4 linked regions of the Homo sapiens genome follow. The protein of the gene in region 2 purifies or fractionates together with the protein of the main gene of each other region. This does not show direct contact. Each region holds a gene or a part of one and is shown on either strand. Other genes may lie near its edges.

Region 1 (3,744 bases), on a different chromosome or scaffold from region 2:
CATTCTAGAGTGCAGTGGCACAATCTCAGTTCACTGCAACCTCTGCCTCCCGGGTTCAAGCGATTCTCCCGCCCCAGCCTCCAGAGTAGCTGGGATTACAGGTGCCCACCACCTCGCCCAGCTAATTTTTTTATTTTTAGTAGAGATGGAGTTTCACCGTGTTAGCCAGGCTGGTCTCAAACTCCTACCCACAGGTGATCCACCCGCCCCGGCCTCCCAAAGTGCTGGGATGACAGGCGGGAGCCACCGCGCCCATCCCTAAGTTGTCTACATTTATCCTTACTTTCCCTGACTTTCCTAAGAGATTTTCCAGGGTAAATTTAACTATTCTAAATGCATTTATCAGCCAGATGAAATGGCACTCTATTTCAAAATAGCTATACTTAAGATATTTGATGCAGTGATGTTTTTATTCACTTATTTAAGTGTGTTCATGTATACTTATCTCACCTTAGTATTTACTAGGTCTTGTGTTTTCCTCAAACAAGTCCTTAGGGTGTTAAATCACCCAGAGGGTTTTAATTAATGACTGGTGGGGACTGAGTGTTTGGGACCTGTTTGTGAGGTCTCTTTTATGCCCTGATCTGTGGCTTTATTCTGTTGCTGTGTTTGGTTCTTCAGCATTATATAAGCTAGCATGAAATTGAGTCTTCAATTCGATGGGGAATTGAATTTGAACCCTCCAAATAGTAAGCAGTCCTTAAGGTTGACAAGAATTCTGTTTGTTAACACCTTGCTGGGAAATAGGCTAAGCTCAAATTTAGGACACTTAAGACCAATAGGTTCACTTCTACTTCAGATAAACTAAATAAATTCCTCTCCTAGGGGCAGCTATTTTTGCTATCTTTGTAACACATCCAAGCCAAAGTTTGAGAGCTTGAAAGATTTCTAATATGTTTTCTGATAGGTTTATTTGTTTTGTTTCTTTTCCTCTTTCCAAATGCCCATACTTAGTTTTCATCAGTAGCAGACATCTTCGTTGAATTTTTGTTAGGAAAATAATTATTATATTTTGAGACAGAGTCTCATTCTGTTGCTCAGGCTGGAGTGCAGTGGCGCAATCTTGGCTCATGCAACCTCCACCCTCTGGGCTCAGGTGATCCTCCTGCCTTAGTCTTCACAGGCAGCTGGGACTGTAGGTGTGCTTGCCACCACGCCCAGCTAATTTTTGTATTTTCAGTACAGACGGGGTTTCACACTGGTCTTGAACACCTGACCCCAAGTGATCCGTGTGCCTTGGCCTCCCAAAGTGTTAGGATTACAGGCATGAGCCACCGTATCCAGCCGGAAAATTAAATATTTTAATATGTAATGTCGGCATATAGTAAGCCTTCCCTAGATAAATGGTAATTTTATTATTGGTTTGAATGGCCTGAATGTTTTTCATTTCTTTAATCTTGGTTGTAAGTATTGTGATAGATTGTGTTATTGTTTAAAGTATTCACTACCACTGTCTGCAACAGGATTACATATCCAAAAACCACTGGCCAAATGACTTGCTTTATCCAGTGAAATGTTAGTGGAAATGATATACCATGTCAAACAGGAGCTTTGAGAGCTCTCCTGTGTTTTGTCATATTCCTTTTCCCTCTGATGTGAGGTAGGTGTACTCCAGGTGGGGTCTGCTGTTTTAGCCCACATCTTGGATTGTAGACTACATAGTGCAAAGCAGAAACTGATTCTTATTGCAAGATTTTATAAAATATAAATTGAGTGAAAAATAAACCTTTGCTGTAAGCCACAAAGGTGTTTGGATTGGTTACCTCAGCATAACAACCTATGCTGACTCTATTTTATATACACTCATATTTGCAAGTGAGCAGGTTTTAGCACATGGACCGATATATCAGCAGTGAGGTCGCAAGCTTTTTGAGGACACAACCACATTTTTGTTTATTTGTGTGTACTTCATGGCATCTAGTGTAATGGCTTGCATGTAGCAGGTAAATGCTTATCTTACAGATGAATAAATACATATTTAGAGATGAGCGATTGTGAGGAAAAGCAGGGAGCATTACGCAGTGTTTCTTTTAATACCCTCATCAGTGATAGCCAGGTAGGCACTAACCTTTATAAATATGAAGATAAACTATCTACAACACATATTCTAATTATTTGCAGTGGTCTGAGTGTAGGATATTCACCTAGAACTCTGTTAACTTTTGGATTGAAGTTGTCTTATGAATAGATTTTGTATTCATACACTTTGACAAGTGTTCAGACACTTCTTTTGTATTCAAATTTAAAAATGCAAGAGGAAATGAATGTTTGGGAAAGGGTACCCTTGGAACATGAGAACTTTTTTGGAGTAAGAGTAACTATGCGAAGTTTTAAAAAGTCAGTAATACGGCCGGGTGCGGTGGCTCACGCCTGTAATCCCAGCATTTTGGGAGGCCAAGGCGGGTGGATCATGAGGTCAGGAGTTCGAGACCAGCCTGGCCAACATGGTGAAACCCCGTCTCCACTAAAAAATACAATAATTAGCCGGGTGCGGTGGCGGGTGCCTGTAATCCCAGCTACTCGGGAGGCCGAGGCAGGAGAATCGCTTGAACCTGGGAGGCGGAGGTTGCAGTGAGCCGAGATCGCACCACTGCACTCTAGCCTGGGTGACAGGGCAAGACTCCAAAAAAAAGTTAATAATACACGGAACTTAAGGGAGAAAGATGGAGCAACTTGGTTCCTGTATAATACTTGCTAGAAGAGATCTGTTTGGGGTGAGGTATACATAGAATTTAGTCAGAATACATATTGTCTGTACTGAATACAAACAATTTCAAATGGAAGAGCTTCTAAAACATGTCCCTTGGTAGAAGTTGAGAATCGTTTATTCCAAGCAAAATTAATTCCAAGTAGCATTTGTTTTTAATTTACTCTGTATCAGCTACTGTGCCAAGGATTTCACCTGTATTATCTCATGTGTTTCCCACAGTAATCCTATCAACTCAGGTGTTGTTATCCTCATTTTTCAGATGAGGAAACAGGTACAGAAGTGAAATTACTGAAGTTTACATTGCCAGGAAATGTAATTGTCTCTTGGTATCCATGAAAGATTGGTTCCAGGACTCCTCAAGGACACCAAAATCCACGGATGCTCAAGTCCTTGATTTAAGATGGTGTAGTATTTCCATATAACTTCTGTACATCCTCCTATATACTTTAAATCATCTCTGGATTACTTATGATACCTAATACAATGTAAATTCTCTGTAAATAACTGTTATCCTGTATTCTTTAGGAAATAATGAAAAGAAAAAAGACTGTACATGATAAGTACAGATGCAGTTTTTCCTCCCCCACCGCCAAGTATTTTTTTTTTTTTTTTTGAGGTGGAGTCTTGCTTTGTTGCCCAGGCTGAAATGCAGTGGCGTGATCTCGGCTCACTGTGAACTCTGCCTCCCAGGTTCAAGCAATTCTCCTGCCTCAGCCTCCCGAGTAGCTGGGATTACAGGCGCGCACCACCACGCCTGGATAATTTCTTTGTATTTTAATTAGAGACGGGGTTTCACCATGTTGGTCAGGCTGGTCTCAAACTCCTGACCTCGTGATCCACCTGCCTCGACCTCCCAAAGTGCTGGAATTACAGGCGTGAGCCACTGAGCCCAGCACCCCTTAATATTTTAAATCTGAGGTTGGTTGAATTATGATGTGGAACCCACAGATGCAGAGGGTTGACTGTAGTCTGATATAGCAGTCTAAATGAATATGTTCACTTTTGCAGTGAGGAATATTATGTCTGGTAATAAT
Region 2 (3,744 bases):
TTCCCCATATGTAAAATGGGGATAATTACAGCATCTTCATCATAGAGTTGTGAGGGTGAAATGAATTATACGTGTAAAGCACTCAAAAAAATGCCCAGCACATAATGAGCACTCAGTGCAGGTTAGCTGTTATGATCTGTATCTCCAGCACCTCACAGAGGATCTTAGAGAAAACAGGTGCTCAGGAAAGGCGTTTGGAATGAATCCCAGGCAAAGGGCAGCTGCTCCGTGGAATGAATGAATGAACAGCCTGGTAGGGTTGGGAGGACACAGAAGCAGTGACAACACAGAATGTGACAGGGAAGGCCAGGGGCCTGGGGTTGCCCGGCGCTGGGTGGGGAGGGGAGTCAGGGAAGCCTTCCTGGAGGTGGTGCCCATGTTGCTGACTTTGGACCTCTGTGAGATCAGCACTGAATGAGCTGAGAGAGGAGTAGCTCCTCTCCAAAGGTAGCTGGCAAGGAGGAGAGCTTGGGCAGACCCCAGGACCAGTGGACTCCACAGGCCTCTCACTTCCCACCAACCCACACCATCTCTCCATCTGTGACATTCTGCTTTCAGGGCATGAGGAAGGCGGAAAGGCAGGTGGGGAGGAAGTGTGGGCTGCTGGTCTGACAGGCTCAGCTCTTCCCAGGCTTGTGACCAAATCTCCTGCAGAAAAGGATAAACAGGCCTGCTTTGAGTTCTTTTATCTTCTTGCTCCCAAGGCACACCAGCAAGCAGAGGGGGTCTTCCAGCGTTAATCCTGCAGCTGTTTAGCTTTTGAACGAGTGGACTCTTTAAAAAAAATGCCACGAAGAATGTCTCACTCTCTCACCCAGGAGGCTCAAAGAGAAACTTCTCTCCCACTGACAAGGGAGCTGGAACCCCCAAGTGTCTTAAAGAAGCTCACCCCAGGGGCAGTCTGAAATCAGGGGACCCCTCATGCTGCCTCGATTTGTTGCTGGCTGTGGGGCCTTGAGGACACCCTTATATTTTGCTTGGCTTCTGCCCATTTTGTAAAATGGGGTCAGGGTAATAAATCCCTTCTTTCCTTAGAAAGGCGTGTGGCAGGAGAGTTTCAGAGGTGGGAAGGGCAGCAGTGGGCATCCAAGCCCATGGCTTTCAAACTTTGTTTCACATTAGAATCATCTGGGAAACTTTTAAAAGTCCTGCAGGCCCCACAATCTCTGGGGCATGACCCAGGCATCAGTAGTTGATGAAGCTCCCCTGGTGATTTCAGTTTGAGAGCCACCTGGCTGCCCTCTGCAGCCTACCTCCCACAGTGTCCCAAGACAATACTTGCACATCCCCAGGACAAGGAGCTCATTCCTTCCGAGGCTGCTTCCTCCCCCCAGGACCTTCCTGCCTGGAGAGATGAGGGGAGTGGGAAGACTTGGTAATCCAGTTAACCTGGGTTCCAGCATGCAGCTGCTCCCTGCGTGTCTTCTCGGAGCCTCAGTTTCCTCATCTGAAAAATGACAATAACGATCTCTCTGAAAGGGCCACAGAGGCCAGACGAGGCCACACATGGCAAGCACCCACCCCATACCTGACGCCGGGCTGGACTGAGACCCTGAACTCCCTGCCCCAGCCACCTGAGGCCAGGTCTCTGAGACTGGCGCTGGTTAGGGTGGGATCAACACCCAGCCCGGGGGCCCTTCCCACTGTCCCCTTTCTCTCTAAGAGATAAGACAAGGCAGTAAGCATTTTGTTTTGCTCAGTTTTGCTTTAATGGTCAAAGTGTCAGACTCTCCTTAACAATGAAGCCTTGTCTGAATCTGCTTGTTTTTCCAACCCGGACACCCAACTGCACCACCTGCTTGGGGCCCCTGTCCCACCTGGGAGAACTGAAGAATGTCAGAGGATTTTTTTTTTTAATCTAGGGGAGGGTGTCCAGGGAACATTGGAGGCCTCTGTGCAAATCCTCACCGATAATTGACCCCACTTAAGTCATCCAACTCTGCTGTGATTGTGAGCCAGTTCACTAAAATTATTTCAAGGTAGTTACTAGGTGTTGAGCTAAACCCCTATCAGTGCCAGTGAGGATGGCACCAGGCTCAAGAGGCCAAAGAGGAGACCCAGAGCCAGCGAATGAGCCATGGGGTTTTACTACGGGCTCACACACAGGGGAGAGAGTCCAGTGGCTGCTGGCTGGACCGAAGAACCACAACCACTCGCAGGAAGTGTGCAGTTTTTTTGTTTTTGGTTTTGGTTTTGGTTTTTTTTTTTGAGACAGAGTTTCGTTCTTATTGCCCAGGCTGGAGTGCAATGGCGCGATCTTCACTCACTGCAGCCTCCGCCTCCCAGGTTCAAGCGATTCTCCTGCCTCAGCCTCCCAAGTAGCTGGGATTACAGGCAAGTGCCACCACACGCAGCTAATTTTGTATTTTTAGTAGAGATGGAGTTTCGCTATGTTGGTTAGGCTGGTCTCAAACTCCTGACTTCAGGTGATCCGCCTGCCTCAGCCTCCCAAAGTGCTGGGATTATAGCTGTGAGCTACCGCCCCCCAGCCTAAAAGCTTGCAATTTCTATAGCATTTTCACTTAGCACCTCCCCCAACAACTTCCACCTAGCAACCTCCATTTACCCCAAACCACAGACCTCAATCCTCTGTTTGGCCCGCAAGTTCCATAGGATGGGCCAAGAGCTCAGATGTTCCTCATAGATAAGGAGTGGATCTCCGGGTTGGCTACTCCCAGATTCCTTAGCTTAGAACCAAACTGCATTGAGGTGCGCCTGCCATACAAGGTCATTCTCAGGGCTTGCTCAAGTCCAGGTATCACTGTCCAACGTGTCTACCATACAGAAGACAGAAAACTTATGTTGATCCTGGCTTTGTCACTTACTGGCAGGATGACCCTGGAAGAATCATTTTATCTCTTTGAGCACGAGTTGTTTCTCCTATAAAATGCATTTGTAGGAAGGACTTCCTGGGATTACCTGAGAAGCAAATAAAATTACTGGTATGTGGAGCACAGTGCCTACCGTAAACTAAGCACTCAAGAGCTGTTGGTGCATGCACTTGCTGGGGAGCTGACCCCTGCCTCCTGCCCCTTCCTTCACTGGCTGGTCCACGCTCCCTGTCTCCCAGTCTGCTCCCCTTGCCCCACCAGGCCCAGGCTGAGACAGAGGACAGAGGAGGCCTGCACATGTAATCATGGGCATCCCTTCAAACTGCTCTTCTTTAAGACCAGAGGAGGCTCTGAGGACTGGACAGAGGAAGACTACAAAAGGGGCCATCAGTGGCAGTGCTTGGTCTCCTTGCCTGGGCACAGCCAGAGAGGGTACATCAACCCAGAGTGACTGGCTCAGGCATTAGGCGTGTGACAAATCAACACGGGATAGTGCAGCACCGAGGGACTAGCAGTGGCTGGGAGCAGTTACCACTCAGGGCTGAAGGAGCAAGGGAAGTGGGCAGCTATAGGGATAGGGGCTGTGGGCCATCAGTACAGGGACCCAGTCAACCCAGGAGACCTCACAGGGGATAAACTTCAACTATCTTTCCTCTTTCCTTCAGTCCCCCATTTATGCTTCCTGTTGGGTGTACCTCTCTGAAAGCCAGCAGCATGGAGCCCATTACATTCCACAGAGGTCAGTTCCCAGGGCCCCAAACAAGGTAGAGAGTGGCTCTGGAGAAGCAAACCAAAGACACTTCCTCACTCTGTCCATCAAAAGCCCGGGAGTCCACTGAATACACTGTCCTTAGGACACAGTTTAAAGATCATCTGTTTTTACCATACCCCTTAATGAAGGGGCTCTCAGCCC
Region 3 (3,744 bases), on a different chromosome or scaffold from region 2:
CATCTCTGACTGGCCCGTTCCTCTCTAGGCGCGTCTGGGAGAAGCCAGGGCTGTGGTAACCGTCGTGTTTTCTGTCCCTCCCCAGAGCCGACAGCTCCTTTAATTTCATGGCGTTTTTCTTCATCTTCGGAGCCCAGTTTGTCCTGACCGTCATCCAGGCGATTGGCTTCTCCGGCTGGGGCGCGTGGTAAGCCTCTCTCTGATGGGCGTGGTGGCTGTGATGTGGCTCAGCTGCCAGGTTGTGGGCCTGCTGGGAAGCCAGGCGGCCACCGGAGCGTGCTGGTCCGGGATTGTACGCGCTCTCCTAGGGAGGGGTCTGAGCTCACCCTGGCAGCGCCCGCGTCCTCGCCAGCGCCCGCGTCCTCGCCAGCACCCAGCCATGGTTCGCGATTGTAGGCACTCTCCTAGGGAGGGGTCCGAGCTCGCCCTGGCAGTGCCTGCGTCCTCGCCAGCGCCCAGCCAGGCTTGTCTCCTGAGTGTTGATCACACCCCTGACCCGGGGTCTGGGAGCCAGTTCCTGGCTGCTGATGTTTCTGCACGGATCGCTGCAGGAGGAAGACCTGTACATCTGTAAAAACACACATACCTGGTGCTGTTACCACACCTGAGAAACTCACAGTCACTCTCTAAGGCTGCCAGGTGCCCAGAAGTGTTTGTGTTGGTGTCTTAAATTTCTGCCTTTTTTCTTTTCTTTTTTTTTTTTTTTTTTTTGAGACAGAGTCTTGCTCTGTCACCCAGGCTGGGGCGCAGTGGTGCAATCTCAGCTCACTGCAACCTCCACATCCTGGGTTCAAGCAATTCTCCTGCCTCAGCCTCCCGAGTAGCTGGGACTACAGGCGCCCGCCACCACGCCTGGCTAATTTCTTTTGTATTTTAGTAGAGACGGGGTTTCACCGTGTTGCCCAGGCTGGTATCGAACTCCCGAGCTCAGGCAATCCGCCTTTCTCAGCCTCCCAAAGTGCTAGGATTACAGGTGTGAGCCACTGCACCCGGCCCTTTTTTTAAACTATTATTATTTTTTTTTGAGATGGAGTCGCTCTCTGTCACTCAGGCTGGGGTGCAGTGACATGATCTTGGCTCACTGCAACCTTCACCTCCCAGGTTCAAGCGATTCTCCTGCCTCAGCCTCCCGAGTAGCTGGGACTACAGGTGTGTGCCCCCACACCCAGCAAATTTTTGTATTTTTAGTAAGAGACGGGGTTTCACCATGTGTTGGTCAGGCTGGTCTGAAACTCCTAACCTCGTGATCCACCCGCCTCGGCCTCCCAAAGTGCTGGGATTACAGGCGTGAGCCACTGTGCCTGGCCAAATTTGTGGCTTTTTAAATAGGCTTTTTATTTTGGAATAATTTGTAATTCTCAGTTGCAGAGAGTGACTGTTCTCGCCCACGTCCCCGACGTGTCTCCCTTGTCCTTGGCACGGCGGGAGCTCCCCACGGGTGACGCTGCTCACGGAGCCGTGGGTGCCTTTGGTTTCCTGGGCTCCCATTAGCAAGCTCCTGTTCTGGGGTTCCTGCCCCACAAGACTGCGGTACTCTCACGCCAGTGCACAGATCAGAATCCAGATAAGGTCCCAGGTTTCCTGGGATGGTGACTCCTCTCCCTTCAGGGCCCCTCGATCTGCAGGCCTCTCCCCTCCTGCACCTGCGCCTGGCGCCAGGCCCTCCAGGGTGGCTGGGATCTGTGGTTTGTGCACCCCTCGGATGTGCCGCTGAAGCTGGTCTGTCACCTGCCACCCCAAGAGCCTGAGTGACGTTGCCCCAGGGATCTGAGTTAGAGTCATAGTGAGCGTGTGCCTGGGACTCCCAGCTCTGCCAGCCTTTGGGGTGCTTCCCCCTCCTGCAGAGGCTGTGGCTGCAGGTCAAGGCACTGCTCGTCATCCTCCGAGTCCTCCTGAGCTCCCAGCTGCCAGCTCGGCTCCCACTGGCCCTTCCCTGGGCTCCAGTGCCTCCTGTGAGCCGCCTCCCCGGTGCGTCCCCAGCTCTCCCAGGCTGAGCTGGGTGGACAGGCCTGTGCCCGTGTTGGGTGGTCCTGAGATCCCGGCATGAGGTGAGTGCCCACATGTGACCCTCAGAGACCTCCCTGCCCCCTCGGCCCTCGTGCACGTGCGGCAGCAGCGACTTGGCTCTTCTCATTGGAGCCTGGGTCATCTCCCGCAGGTCACGGGAGAAGCTGAGCATGCGGTCCCTGCCCGAGGTGGACAGAAGGTGAACGCTCTTGAGAAAGAAACCCAGCGGGTCTTAGGAGAGCCCGGCCCCCCTTGTAATGAGAGAAATCAAACCACAGCGCACAGCGACTTCATGTCCACCGTTGGCTTAGTGAGGCCCCACGCTCAGTGCGCTGCTGTGGGGCGAGAGGGGACAGCCCCGCTCTCCCTGTCCTGGGCGGCTTCACCAGCGCCACCTCCCCACACACTCTGTGCACTGCTGTGGGGCAAGAGGCGACAGCCCCGCTCTCCCTGCCCCGGGCAGCTTCACCAGCGTCACCTCCCCAGGGGTGACGCATGCCCGAGGCCATGAGCCACGGCAGCATCTGTGGTGGCAGAGGACTGGAAACTCCAGAGAAATGACCCCCAGCGGGGCCTAGCTGTGTAGATGGTGAGGGTGGCCACATGGCGGCAGCCAGGTACTGAGGACACGGTGCAGCAGGGGCCCCCGGTGGGCCCCGCCAGGAATCGGACATCAGCGGGCGCCGCAGCCTCTAAGCGGAGCATGCAGCCCACTGACAGTGTGCTGGGTGCCTCCCTAGACCTGACACTTGCATGCGGGGGCGTGCGATGCTGGCCAGTGGGAAGCTGCGGGGGCGGCGGCAGGAGTCCTCAAATGCCTTTGCCGCTTTTCATAAATCTAAAATTACATCCAAACAGAGGTTTACTTTTTTAAAAAATAAAAGAGGCCAGGCATGGTGGCTGACGCCTGTAATCCCAGCGCTTTGGGAGGCCAAAGCAGGAGAATCACTGCTTGAGGCCAGGAGTTCAGACTGGCCTGGGCAACATAGGGAGAAACCATCTCTCCAGAAAAAAAAAAAGAGGAAGGAATGACCCAAAGACCATGCAGCCTGTGATGCTGTGGAGGCTCCAAGCAGGCGAACACAGGACAGGCCAGCATCTTGCAGGGACGCGGCGGGGGGTACCGCGTGTGCGTGCATATCACGCCCCGTGCATGTGTGTGCATAAGCTCCCCGGACACATCCGGGGGTGTGGGTCCTGCGGGCTGCCTGTGCACCAGGGAGGGGAGTCAGCAGGAGAGAGACTGTACGTCGTGCCTGCCTTTAAGTTCCCTGAATTTTAAACCCTGTGGTTTCATCACCTGTTAAGACAAAAATCTCAAAATGACTGTTTTCTGCCTCCTGGGTCTCAAAGGCAGGTGCAATGCCCAGAGGCTGGTCCTGCACAGAGGGACCCAGGGCGTGCTGGCCTTCCCAGTGTCCCACTGGTGGCTGATCTAAGCAGTGCTTTCCCTCGTTTTTTTATTTTGAGACAGAATCTTGCTCTGTCCCCCAGGCTGGAGAGCAACGGCACGATCTCGGCTCACTGCAGCCTCCCGCTTCAGCCTCCCAGATAGCTGGGATTACAGGCATGCGCCCTCATGCCTGGCTAATTTTTGTATTTTTAGTAGAGACGGGGTTTCACCTTGTTGGTCAGGCTGGTCTCCAGTTCCTGGCCTCAAGTGATCCGCCCGCCTCGGCCTCCCAAAGTGCTGGGACGACAGGCGTAAGCCTCTGCGCCCGGCCTCCTCATTGTTTC
Region 4 (3,744 bases), on a different chromosome or scaffold from region 2:
AAATAGAGCCCACACATTGGTGAAATAGATCGGCTTCTAGCTTTCCAGTATGGTGGTGAGCTCATTTGCTGTTGTAGTCTTTTTGTCATTATTCTGTAGGCATCAGGCTCCAGGATTCTTATATTCTGTTTTATAATGCCCACATTTCCTTCTGTCTATACTGAGCATCTTTAAAATATTAAGAAATGTTTCATTCAGTCATCCTTTCAAATATTTGAATGCCTATTACAGTATTCCAGATGCTGGAGAGCTTACATTCCTGTGAGAGATACATACAGTAAGCGTTATAATTTCAGAGGGTGAAGAAAATAAAGCAACCTGTGAGGGTGGAGAGTAACTGTTTGGATGGCAAATGTTTGAGATGAGCGTCCAGGAAAGACAACTCAGAGATAGCAATCACCGAGAGACCTGAAACATGAGTTGGATCAGCCTTTGGAAGATTTACTGAAAGAGTGCTCCAGGCAACGGGAACAGCAAGTATAACACTTGCTATTTTAAAAACAAGGAGGAGGCTGGGCACTGCGGCTCATGCCTGTAGTCCCAGCTACTCATGAGCCTGATGCTGGAGGATCTCTTGAGCCCAGGAGCTTGAGGCTGCAGTGAGCTGCGATTGTGCCATTGTACTCCAGCCTGCGCAACAGAGTGAGACTCTGTCTCAAAAATAAATAAATAAATAAACAAAAACAAGGGACAGTGGGTTAGAGCATGGTGACTTAGAGGACAGCAGAAGAGGTAGAGGAGGTGCGAGGTGTAAATGAGGGAAGCCCAGGGGAGATTTCTATTCCACCTGCTGAAGAAGGGATTATGTCCTGAGGATAATGAGAAGCTATGGAGAGGTTGGAGCAAAGGAGAGACATGAAAACACTTTACTTTTTAAAAAAATCACCCTTGGTTGGCATGTGGAGGAGAACAGACTAATGAGACATGACACTAATCAGGATGCTGTTAGAGCAGAAGAGGCAACAGGGGACCAGGGTACAGGTGACAGAAGCACTGAGGTGTGGTTGGTGTCAGGATGTATTTTAAACAGGACTTGCTGATGGGTTGAGTCAGTGAAAAGAAAGGAATCACAAATCTCCAAAAATGACCCAACTAAGTAGGTACAAGGTTATATCTGAGATAGGCAAACAGGAGGAAGAGTTGGCCATGTGTTTGGGAGGTGGGAGAAGAACAGTGGAAGTCACTATTCTGTTTCAGTCATGTGGAGTTTGCAATACCTTTAGTTATTCAATTAGAAATGTGAATTAGGCAGTTTGTTGTACAAATCTGAGGTCTGAGAAAACTTGGGGTTGGAGAGCAAATTTCATTCAACAATTATTTATTAAATGTACAGTAGCATTTTCCTGGAGAGGGAGACGATGCTCTCAATTTCCTGTTTGTTTCCAAGGACTATGCAGACTCTTCAAGAATGTAAAACTTGTAGGGTAGAGCATTCTGTTAAAATTTTGGAAGGTTTGCCAAATGCATACAAATGTTAGCTAGATGGATATAGATATTGGAGAAGAAAGTTAACAGGAGGGATGTTCATAACTATCTTTGAGGGCAATAAACAGCTATCTGGGAAGTGATCTAAATGGAAACTGTAATACTTCCATTTGGGAAAAGCAGGTAACCCTGAATACACCTTGTGCTCAGGTGTTTTGTGTTTCTTTCTTTTTTTTTTTTTTTTTTTTTGAGACAGACTCTCACTCTGTTGCCCAGGCTGGAGTGCAGTGGCATGATCTCGGCTCACTGCAACCCCTACCTCCTAGGTTCAAGCAATTCTCCTTCCTCAGCCTCCCAAGTAGATGAGACTGCAGGTGCCTGCCACCACACTTGACTAATTTTTGTATTTTTAGGAGAGGTGGGGTTTCACCATGTTGGCCAGGCTGGTCTCGAGCTCCTGACCTCAAATGATCCACCCACCTTGGCCTCCCAAAGTGCTTGGATTACAGGCATGAGCCACCGCGCCTGGCCTGTGCTTCATTTTTAATGAGTAAGAGGTATTCAATAAATTGGGAATGGCATTCCATAGTAGCTCCTGAAAAGGAATACATTCTTCCTGCTGTTTCTGTTATTTTATGAGGGTTTCTATGCTTTTTTAGAAAAATTTTTGGTGGTAATGGGGGTGTGCAAAGGAGTTTATGTTGCTTTTGAACTTTTCTAGATTTTTTCTTTTCCAGTTGCTGTTGTAAAGTGAGTTCCTTTTCTTCTGTAAAAACCACAACAACCAAATGTGAAAAAAGCAAAAAGCATGGTTCCTTTTTCTGGACTTCAGGTGCATTGTGCAAGTATTGTGTAACTAACTCCCTTTAGAGTCCAGAGAAGGTCTGCCACCAGGTAGTGTTTGGCTTGGGAGACCTGAGGCTTTTTATCTCCGCCAGTTACTACCTGTTTGGCCTTGGAATCGTTACTTTACATCTCAGGGCCTCAGTTTCCCACATTTATCCAAGGAGTGGTGCATTATGTTTCCTTTGGCTTTTATATTTTATGACACAGTTGTTCTTAGGAAGCTGGACACACTTAGGAAAATATATCTATAAATTTACCTTTGGCTTTTATATTTTATGACACAGTTGTTCTTAGGAAGCTGGACACACTTAGGAAAATATATCTATAAATTTAAAATGTAGATGCTTGTTATCCTTTCTTATCTCACTCTTTTACTTCCAATGTCCCTCTTTCACCTAAATAGCTATTCCTTCCAGTATGCTTTTAGAAATGAGAAAGATAATATATTGAAGATTAAGGATGTTACATGACTCTTGTAAAAATTAGAAGCCCAACTAGCATGCACTGTTTTATTTCTCTGTAGAATATATTTGCATGTGTGTGCTGCATGATTGATTAGGGCATTTTATTCTAAGCATTTACTTCTAAAGGCAATGGCAAAATTTTTCTTCCTCTCATATTGAGATATTTAGGCTTGGTCAATCTGTAGTAAGGATTTTAAAACAGTGTACAAGAAAGCCCCGAATTTTTTGACATTTTTAACATGTGATTTCCACAGGGGGAGAATTTGGAAGACGGCATGTTACAATATGACATTTTATTGTTTGAGAGATTAAGTGCTAAGACTGACAATCCAGAGGAGAAACAATATAGAGAAATGATAGTGAGTAGACTTAAAGTGAGATTTTCAGACACCTTTTAGACCATTGGACATATCCAAATAAACATTGATTTCTATTAGCTGTATGGATTTTACAAACTAATATAAAGTTATTTTAAAGTTTTGTAACAAAAGCATTTTCCAAGTTTATAGAATTTGGTTGTCATGTTCTAGTTCTCTATATAAAATACCTTGCCAGGCTCAGCAAAAGTCGTATTTGGATTTGCTACCATCCCTTAATGAGGACATAGGTCATTATTAAAACTATCAGACATGCCTGAATACAAGATGACCTAAGTGGAAGCCATGTGGTCTTTTATGACCCAGCTTCAAAAGTCAAATATAATGTCATTTCTGCCATCCTCTATTTGTCAAAGCAGTTACAAATACCCAGATTCAAGACCTTACCTCTCAATGGGAGCAGTGCCAAAGAAGTTGTGGCTTTTTTGTAAAACCACCATAATAAGCCATGTCATATCCATAGAATGAAACAACATGATGCTGGAAAAGAAATTATTAAACTCTATATACAGTTATGGAAAGATACACTGTAAAATGAAAAAACAATGAGATGAAGAATAGTTTATAAGTCATACTCTCTTTTGTAAGAATGATGGAATAAATGAGAATATGTATATGTGTATATTACCTGT

What was found.
Region 1: the proteins of GDPD5 (region 2) and NDUFS4 purify together in Homo sapiens (co-immunoprecipitation; 3 studies listed by BioGRID and IntAct, with this or other methods). This does not show direct contact.
Region 3: the proteins of GDPD5 (region 2) and SCAMP4 purify together in Homo sapiens (co-immunoprecipitation; 3 studies listed by BioGRID and IntAct, with this or other methods). This does not show direct contact.
Region 4: the proteins of GDPD5 (region 2) and PIP4P2 purify together in Homo sapiens (co-immunoprecipitation; 3 studies listed by BioGRID and IntAct, with this or other methods). This does not show direct contact.

The regions. Positions count from the first base shown.
Region 1 is NC_000005.10:53,563,544-53,567,287, forward strand, and holds part of NDUFS4 (NADH dehydrogenase [ubiquinone] iron-sulfur protein 4, mitochondrial isoform 1 precursor), read left to right. Parts: intron 1-3,744. UniProt on the Homo sapiens protein: Accessory subunit of the mitochondrial membrane respiratory chain NADH dehydrogenase (Complex I), that is believed not to be involved in catalysis. Complex I functions in the transfer of electrons from NADH to the respiratory chain.
Region 2 is NC_000011.10:75,515,919-75,519,662, reverse strand, and holds part of GDPD5 (glycerophosphodiester phosphodiesterase domain-containing protein 5), read left to right. Parts: exon of another isoform or gene 1-648; intron 649-1,389; exon of another isoform or gene 1,390-1,447; intron 1,448-2,236; exon of another isoform or gene 2,237-3,744. UniProt on the Homo sapiens protein: Glycerophosphodiester phosphodiesterase that promotes neurite formation and drives spinal motor neuron differentiation.
Region 3 is NC_000019.10:1,918,804-1,922,547, forward strand, and holds part of SCAMP4 (secretory carrier-associated membrane protein 4), read left to right. Parts: intron 1-85; coding exon 86-187; intron 188-3,744. UniProt on the Homo sapiens protein: Probably involved in membrane protein trafficking.
Region 4 is NC_000008.11:91,030,711-91,034,454, reverse strand, and holds part of PIP4P2 (type 2 phosphatidylinositol 4,5-bisphosphate 4-phosphatase), read left to right. Parts: intron 1-3,744. UniProt on the Homo sapiens protein: Catalyzes the hydrolysis of phosphatidylinositol-4,5-bisphosphate (PtdIns-4,5-P2) to phosphatidylinositol-4-phosphate (PtdIns-4-P).